Homo sapiens: one gene and its partner. The protein of the gene in region 2 interacts with the protein of the main gene of each other region in a pairwise test. Each region holds a gene or a part of one and is shown on either strand. Other genes may lie near its edges.

Evidence for each region. The genes of interacting proteins can lie anywhere in the genome.
Region 1: the proteins of AGO3 (region 2) and SLC22A2 interact in a two-hybrid assay, tested with the Homo sapiens proteins (one large-scale study listed by BioGRID and IntAct).

Annotation. Positions count from the first base shown.
Region 1 is NC_000006.12:160,256,576-160,260,327, forward strand, and holds the start of SLC22A2 (solute carrier family 22 member 2), read right to left. Parts: upstream 2,247-3,752; 5' UTR 2,183-2,246; coding exon 1,769-2,182; intron 143-1,768; coding exon 39-142; intron 1-38. UniProt on the Homo sapiens protein: Electrogenic voltage-dependent transporter that mediates the transport of a variety of organic cations such as endogenous bioactive amines, cationic drugs and xenobiotics. Functions as a Na(+)-independent, bidirectional uniporter.
Region 2 is NC_000001.11:35,937,503-35,941,154, reverse strand, and holds part of AGO3 (protein argonaute-3), read right to left. Parts: intron 1-3,652.

The DNA of each region.
Region 1 (3,752 bases), on a different chromosome or scaffold from region 2:
GGGATTGTTTAAATTCCACCACAGGTGATTCAACCTACCTGTCTGCTATGTAGCCGATACTCATAGAGCCAATAAAGAATCCTACATTCACTGATGACTGGAATAGGTCCAACATCCAGGAGTTGGCACATACCAGGTTAAACTGCCAGCAGGGGAGAAGTGTTCCAAGTTGGGAGAGAAAGGAAATGAAATCCTGTTAGAATCCTGTTGGACATAACTCAGCTAGGGTACTCATTAAATATTCCTTGAATTGAACTGTATAGTTAAGTGGCAATAAGCCATTGTTTCTTGATCATGCCAATTTTCTTCTTCTTCTCTCTCTCTCTCTTTTTTTTTTTTTTTTGTGAGACAGGGTCTTGCTCTGTCACCCAGGCTGGAGTACAGTGGTGATCATGGCTCACTGCAGCCTCGACCTCCTGGGCTCATGTGATCCTCACACCTCAGCCTCCCAAAATGCTGGCATTATAGGCGTGAGCCACTGTGCCCAGCCTCAGTTTTCTTTACATAACCAAAAGGCTTGCCCTTCCATCTGGCAATTTGTCATGAAGCTAAAACTACAGCATTGGCTAAATCAGCTGAAACTGGGTAATTACTTATAGACAAATTTATTTTTTCCTTTCTAATTTCAATGCACATGCAGATAGGTGTGTGGACGTGATACAATGCAGGCACCAGGAGGTTGGGCCATTTAGCATCTCCCTGCTGTCTGTTTAATAAAAGGGGATTAGGAGTGACTGCTGAAGGCTGCTGCATTTGCTCTTATTTGGAATAAGAGGAGGTGGTCGGGTGGAGCAGGTGCTGGACCAGGTCAGGAGACCCATCTTTTAGGGCTAACCCTGCTAAGTTATTCACTGTGTGGCCTGGGGAAAAACCTTCTCTGCTTGGGGCCTCAGTTTCCTCATCTCTGTAGGAAGCAATGAGATTGGCCATGTGAGAGAGCCTCGGAGAGTTTGTGGTGTGAAGCCCATGAGCTGCCACATTTCCTGTAAATATCTGACCACTTTAGACCCTTCAAATTAGACTCTACCTACCCATCTGTTCACACAGAATATCTTCCCATTGTCCAAGCAGTCATTTTAAATTAAACTAGGCAACTGGCTCTCTCAGTATTTTCAGGTAACTTAATTCCCCTATTTTGCTTTGCTTTCAATAAAAGCAAGCTCCATTTTTTGTCTTTTTTTCTATTATATTTATTGGAATCAGGCTTCACAAATAGCTTTTGATGTCATCTGTAGTTTTTAACAAAATAATAGTGCCATAGCATGATCTCCAGCCCCAAATGATTTTATATGAACACTTTGAGGAAATTAAAGAGAAAAAATAGGTATCGAGAGAAAAGCACATCCTATCACACAGTCAGGCACAGTTCAGTTGAGTTCCACGGGCTTTCAGGTGTGTGTGGGCATCTGCGGGATGGAGGAATAGAGGGGGAGGTAAGGCTTCCAGAAAAAGAGGAGGATCCACAATATCCCTATCTTGGCAACATTTCCAGGAGTCCTAATATGCTTTGGCCTGTTCCTTATTGCTGGGACATGCACAAACTAGAATCATTATTGTCAGCATCTGAGGACGTTTTAACTAATCCAGTTATTCTCCAGACAAATTAGAAGCTGCATGTTCTCATTTGGAAACTAGGATTTTGTAAGATACATGCAGGCCAAAGAGATGTCCAGGCAGGGTTTATAAGAGCCGGGCCTTCCCTGCTTGCTTCCTTGAGAAAATCTCCACCATTTGCTTCTCCATCTGAGCCCTGAGCTCACTCTCTTACCTCGGTGACGATGGACGAGCCAGGCGTCTCGTACACCCAGCCGTCCCGGCAGGGGCCCAGTGGCAGGCGGCTCCTGTTGGTGTCCAGGCTGGCCAGGGGGTCCACGCAGTCGAAGGTGCTCTGGTTCCAGTCCACCTCGTAGCGCCTACACTGTCTTGGGGAGGCTTCGCCCGCAGGTCCTGGGCCCGGCACCGTGTAGTTCAGTTCCTCTGCAGGACTCCAGCCGCAGCGCAGACTCAGCTCGGCCACTCCGGGGCTCCGGCAGCGGTGGTCAGGGGTGAAGCCCAGGAAGACGATGCCCACGTAGATGGGCGCGAAGGTAGCCGAGAGCAGAGCCAAGAGGAAAAACATTTGCTTCTGGAAAAAGTGAAACTCCCCTCCATGCTCCAGGACATCGTCCACGGTGGTGGGCATGATCCTGCAGGCAGGAGGGCCCGAGGCTGCCCGACGTGCCCGGAGCGAGGCTGAGAGCGGCTGCAGCCAGCTCAGCACAAACCCTGGCCAGAAGTCAAAGAGGGGAGTTTACCTCTGCAAGTGACCAGCCTTCAGGGCAGGGCCTTTCCTTGGTCCAGCTGACTTCAAAGGTGCACCCCTCCAGCGGGGGTGCATGTCCTTCTGCACTTCCCAAATGCCCTGAGCTCACTCCCAGGATGCCTGTCGTGTTTATTATAACTGGTTCTCCACAGGCTTGTCGGTGCTCCACGCCAGCAGCACAAACAACCCGCCCTCTGTGTCCCACCGCAGGGAATCTGAGTGCTGGCCCATATCACAGCCCAGTAATCTTCCCGTAGTGCCCCGAGCAGCCAGGAACTTAATATACTCCTATCTCATGCGCACCGCCAGCTTTTCTTCAAGGCCCTATGGAGAAAACACACGTGTTTGGCCACAAGGCCCAGCGTGATGTGAACCAGGATCCGTGTCAGAACCCTGGTCCAGATTCGAAGTGGGTTGCAAGCCTGACTGCTGGGCTCATTCTCCAACCAACAACAAGAGCCGTCGGGATGCATGCTGGGGCTGCTTGTTTTGATGTTGTCCAGATTTTATAACTCTGCTTTTAAAAAGTGTTTGCTCCAATCTGGTATTCCTGCGTTTCAACCCTGAAGTGTCCTTCCCCTTAACCCATCTGGAGGGAAAGAGGAAAGTGTTTACGTCGCAGACAGGTCAAGTGTAAATGCAGGCAGGTGTGTCCAAGCCACTATCTTTGTGTCCTAGATTTTTCTGTCAAGGTCTGTTGGGGCTCAGAAATCCATGCCCCAAGGTGGAGGCCTCAGAAGCAAAGTCTCTCTCTCTGACCTTCTCCTGCCCTCCTGTCTCTTCTCTCACCCATCATTCTCCCCCGGGGCAAGCCATAGAACTGAGAATCCTTCTTCCTCAAAGCAGCTCGTGGAAACCAGACTCTTTTCTCCCCAAAGCCAGCCAGAAAGCCTAGAAATACCACTGTAACTTCCCCGCTGCCTTTCTGTGTAACAGTGGGCCGTAAAGAAATCCAGACCCGCATTCCAGAGGAGTCTTGTCCCCGGTGCCTGGAGGAAGGAGTGCTGCACAGAGGGGCCAAGACGGATCTGAACAGACAGGCCTTGCTGGGTTTTCCCCTCAGCCTGCGAACATGGGCTGCTGCCCTTTTTGTCCAACTACAGTTCTATACTGCCATCCAGTTTTCCCTGTATCTGTGGGTCTTCATTCTGAATGAAGGCTCCTGTGTCATGTAAAACGTGATCAAATAAATTTGTCATGCTTTTCTCTTGTTAACCTGTCTTTTGTTATAGGGGTGTTGGCCGTGAGCCTTAGGATAAGGAAGAAAGGGATCACCCCTTTCTGCTCTCACACATCAGGGGCATCTCTTTAGGATGATGTTGTTGCATCTAAATGCAAGACAAACAGGAAATTTGTCTTTCCTGGTGGACAAAAGGATTCTTAATACATCGTGATCCTGCCAAGTAGAGAAGGTGGCCTGCTGACATATCTGCAAACTAAATACCAGAAA
Region 2 (3,652 bases):
GAAGTGTCATTTACTGAGATAGGAAAGACTCAGTGATAGTAGCAAGTTTGGAGGGGAAATCAAGAGGATTTTAAGGATATGCTAAATTTGAGGTGTCTACAAGTAGATGAATAGTAAGCAGTTAGATGAGTGTGGAGTTCAGAGGAGAGGTCCAGGCTGGAGGTGTAAATGTGGGTGTCCTCAGCATAGAAGTGTTATTTAAAACCACTGGATTAGAGATCAGACAGACTGTGGCATGGATACAGAATACTAACCCCAAGGATACTCCCAATATTTAGAAATTAGGGAAATGAAAACAGCAAAGGAACTGGAAAAGTAACAGCCAACAAGGTTGGAGGAGGACCTGGAGAGAGTGGTACCCTGAAAACCAAATGGAGAAAAACAGTGTTTCAAGAAGAAAATGTCATTAGATGTGGATGAAATAAAATGAAGATCTGGGAACTATTGGGTTTAGCTAAGTCTTTGCTGACCTTGATAAAAACAATTCCAGTCAAGTGCTAGGGACAAAAACCCAACTGTAGTAAGTTCAAAAAGAATGGCCTGAATTTGATCAAGCCCTTGGATCCACTAGCAGTTTACAGGAAATTCAAAGGATTATGTTAAATTAAATTGTAAAGATGGAACCAGCAAAATCCAGATCGTGAAAAATTCTAAAAGGACAAACAGCCCATAAATTGCAGAGGAGAAAAACAAGGAGAGAAAACTTACCGATTAAGACACTTAAAAGACATATCGATCAATCACAATGTGTAGAACTTATTTGGATTTTGAATCAAAAATTTTTTTTAGGCTGGGCGTGGTGGCTCATGCCTGTAATCCCAGCACTCTGGGAGGCTGACGCGGGCGGATCACCTGAGGTCAGGAGTTCAAGACCAGCCTGGCCAACATGGTGAAACCCCGTCTCTACTAAAAATACAAAAATTAGCCGGGCGTCATGGCGCATGCCTGTAATCCCAGCTACTCAGGAGGCTGAGGCAGGAGAATCGCTTGAACCTGGGAGGTGAAGGTTGCAGTCAGCCAAGATCATGCCACTGAACTCCAGCCTGGGCAACAGAGTGAGACTGTATCTCAAAAAAAAAAAAATTTTTTTTTAAGGCAAACAGTTTAAAAAATAATATGTGAGACAAGTAAAAATTTGAACAATGATTAGAAATTTTTATAAGTGATTATTATTTTGCTGTGATAATGGTACTATATCATGAGTCCATAACTTTTATAGTTACTACTAAATATGAATAAAATCATATTATACCTAGAATATGCTTCAAAAATATAAAAGAGGGAAAAGTAGAAGAGAAGCGATTGGACGTGGGTTGATGACTGCGTTTGGGTGGTGGGTACAATAGAGTTTATTATACAGTTCTGCCTATATGTATACATCCTAAATTCTCTATAGTAAAATATCATAAAAAAGAGAGAAATGGCCATTTCCTTTGCATGTGTCATCTCTTCTTACTATCCCATTGTACAGATAAGAAAATTAAGGTTAAGGAAGATTAAATGCACTGCCCAAAGTAGCAGTTAACTTTTTCTGATAGACTATTTTAGGGAAGTTTTAGGTTCACAGCAAAATTGAACAGAAGGTAGAGATTTCCCATATGTCCCAGGCCTCCTGCCCTGACATACACACAGACACCCTACTATCAACATCCTCTACAAGAGGAGAACATTTGCACTCAAACCTATACCGACACATCATTAATAAATTTCAGTTAATTTAAGAGCCAGAATCTGTCTCTAAAACCCATGTTTTTTACACTATATCATACTGTCAATTTTTTTCTCCATGGTCATTACTTTACCTGGTGCTTTTTAAATAATTTGGCACAAAGCAAAATTCTGTTGCATGAATAAGCAATGAACAGAATTCTATAGATACTAATCAAGTTTAGTATCCAGAAAATATTCTGGATATTTTCATAATATCCAGAATATTATGAAATATTTACATTACATAATAATGTAAATTAGCAGATGAAACAATTCTGTCAATACAATGAATTATACTTCCAATGAAGCATATTTTAGTTATTTAACAAATACATACTGCCCACTAGAGTTGGAAATATAACTACACAGAAATACAAAGCACTATCTGGACTTTCTCCCTATATCAAACTTTTCTTTCAGCAGTTATTGTATGTACTGGATAATAACTAACCAAACTAAATTTCAAACATAAAACCATACATTTCCAAAGCATACATGTGTCCATGTTGTTCACTCATCTAGTAATCCAATGTGTACCAGTTGGAAAGTCTAAAGCTAAACAATAGCCTACAGCAAATGTGACTGATGAAAAAAAACAAGCAGTGAATAAATCAAAATCAACTATAACATATACTATAGCCAATTACTAACTTATAGATTTTCACTGGAAACATTTTCTTTAATATTCATGGAATACTGTTTCAATAATTCTACTTCTAACAATTTATCCAAAAGCAAGCACTGGACCAGTATACAAACACATATGTACTAGAATACTTACAAAGTTTTAGTCATAATAACAAAAAACTGGAAAAAATCTAAACCACTATCAATGAGACTGATCAATATACAGATAAAATTAAATGCTATGTACTCAGTATAAATTATTATACTATTATATAGATGTAAGTAATGATATGGGAAAGATACTTACGACACATTACTAAGTGGAAAAAGAAGGTTAGAAACAATTCGTATGATAAATATATGGACAGACGGATGGATGTCTGGGAAGATATACAAGAAAGAGTTAACAATGGTTTCATCTGGAGGATAGGATCATACTTTCATCTTCTATTTGAGACATTCTTATATCGTTTGTTTTTTAAAGTAATAAACATGTAGTTATTATTTTATAATTGGAAAAAGAATGCATTTTTGGGCCGGGCACAGTGGCTCATACCTGTAATCCCAGCACTTCAGTAGGCCAAGAAGGGTGGATCACCTGAGGTCAGGTCTGGTTCAAGACCAGCCTGACTAACATGGTGAAACCCCATCTCCACTAAAAATACAAAAATTAGCTGGACGTGGTGGCGGGCACCTGTAATCCCAGCTACTAGGGAGACTGAGGCAGGATAATTGCTTGAGCCCAGGAGGCGGAGGTTGCAGTGAGCCGAGATCATGCCATTGCACTCCAGCCTGGGCGACAGAGCAAGACTCCGTCTCAAAAAAAAAAAAAAAAAAGAATACATTTTTGTTTTGGAAAAAGAAATATATTGTGTTGATCTCAAAATCTGACTTAATGAAATGTCTCTGATTTTATACATGTTAAGTCTGCAAAGCTACGTAGTAAACAGCATGGAACTTCAGGAACCTCCTACCTGCTAATTCCACTTTTTCATTCAATGAATCTGTCCAAACATACCGCACTTATTATTAGGCTCATTACAATTAAATAATCACTTATAGAACATCCAGCCAGTTGAGGGTTAAGCTTATCAGGTGGCAGTATGGGAAACAATTTATTTCTTTTTTTGAGCAGAATCTCGCACTGTGGTCCAGGCTGGAGGGCAGTGGCACGATCTTGGCTCACTGCAACCTCCGCCTCCCAGGTTCAAGCAATTCTCTTGTCTCAGCTTCCCAAGTGGCTGAATTACAGGTGTACGCCACCATGCCCAGCTAATTTTTGTATTTTTAATAGAGATGGGGTTTCACCATGTTG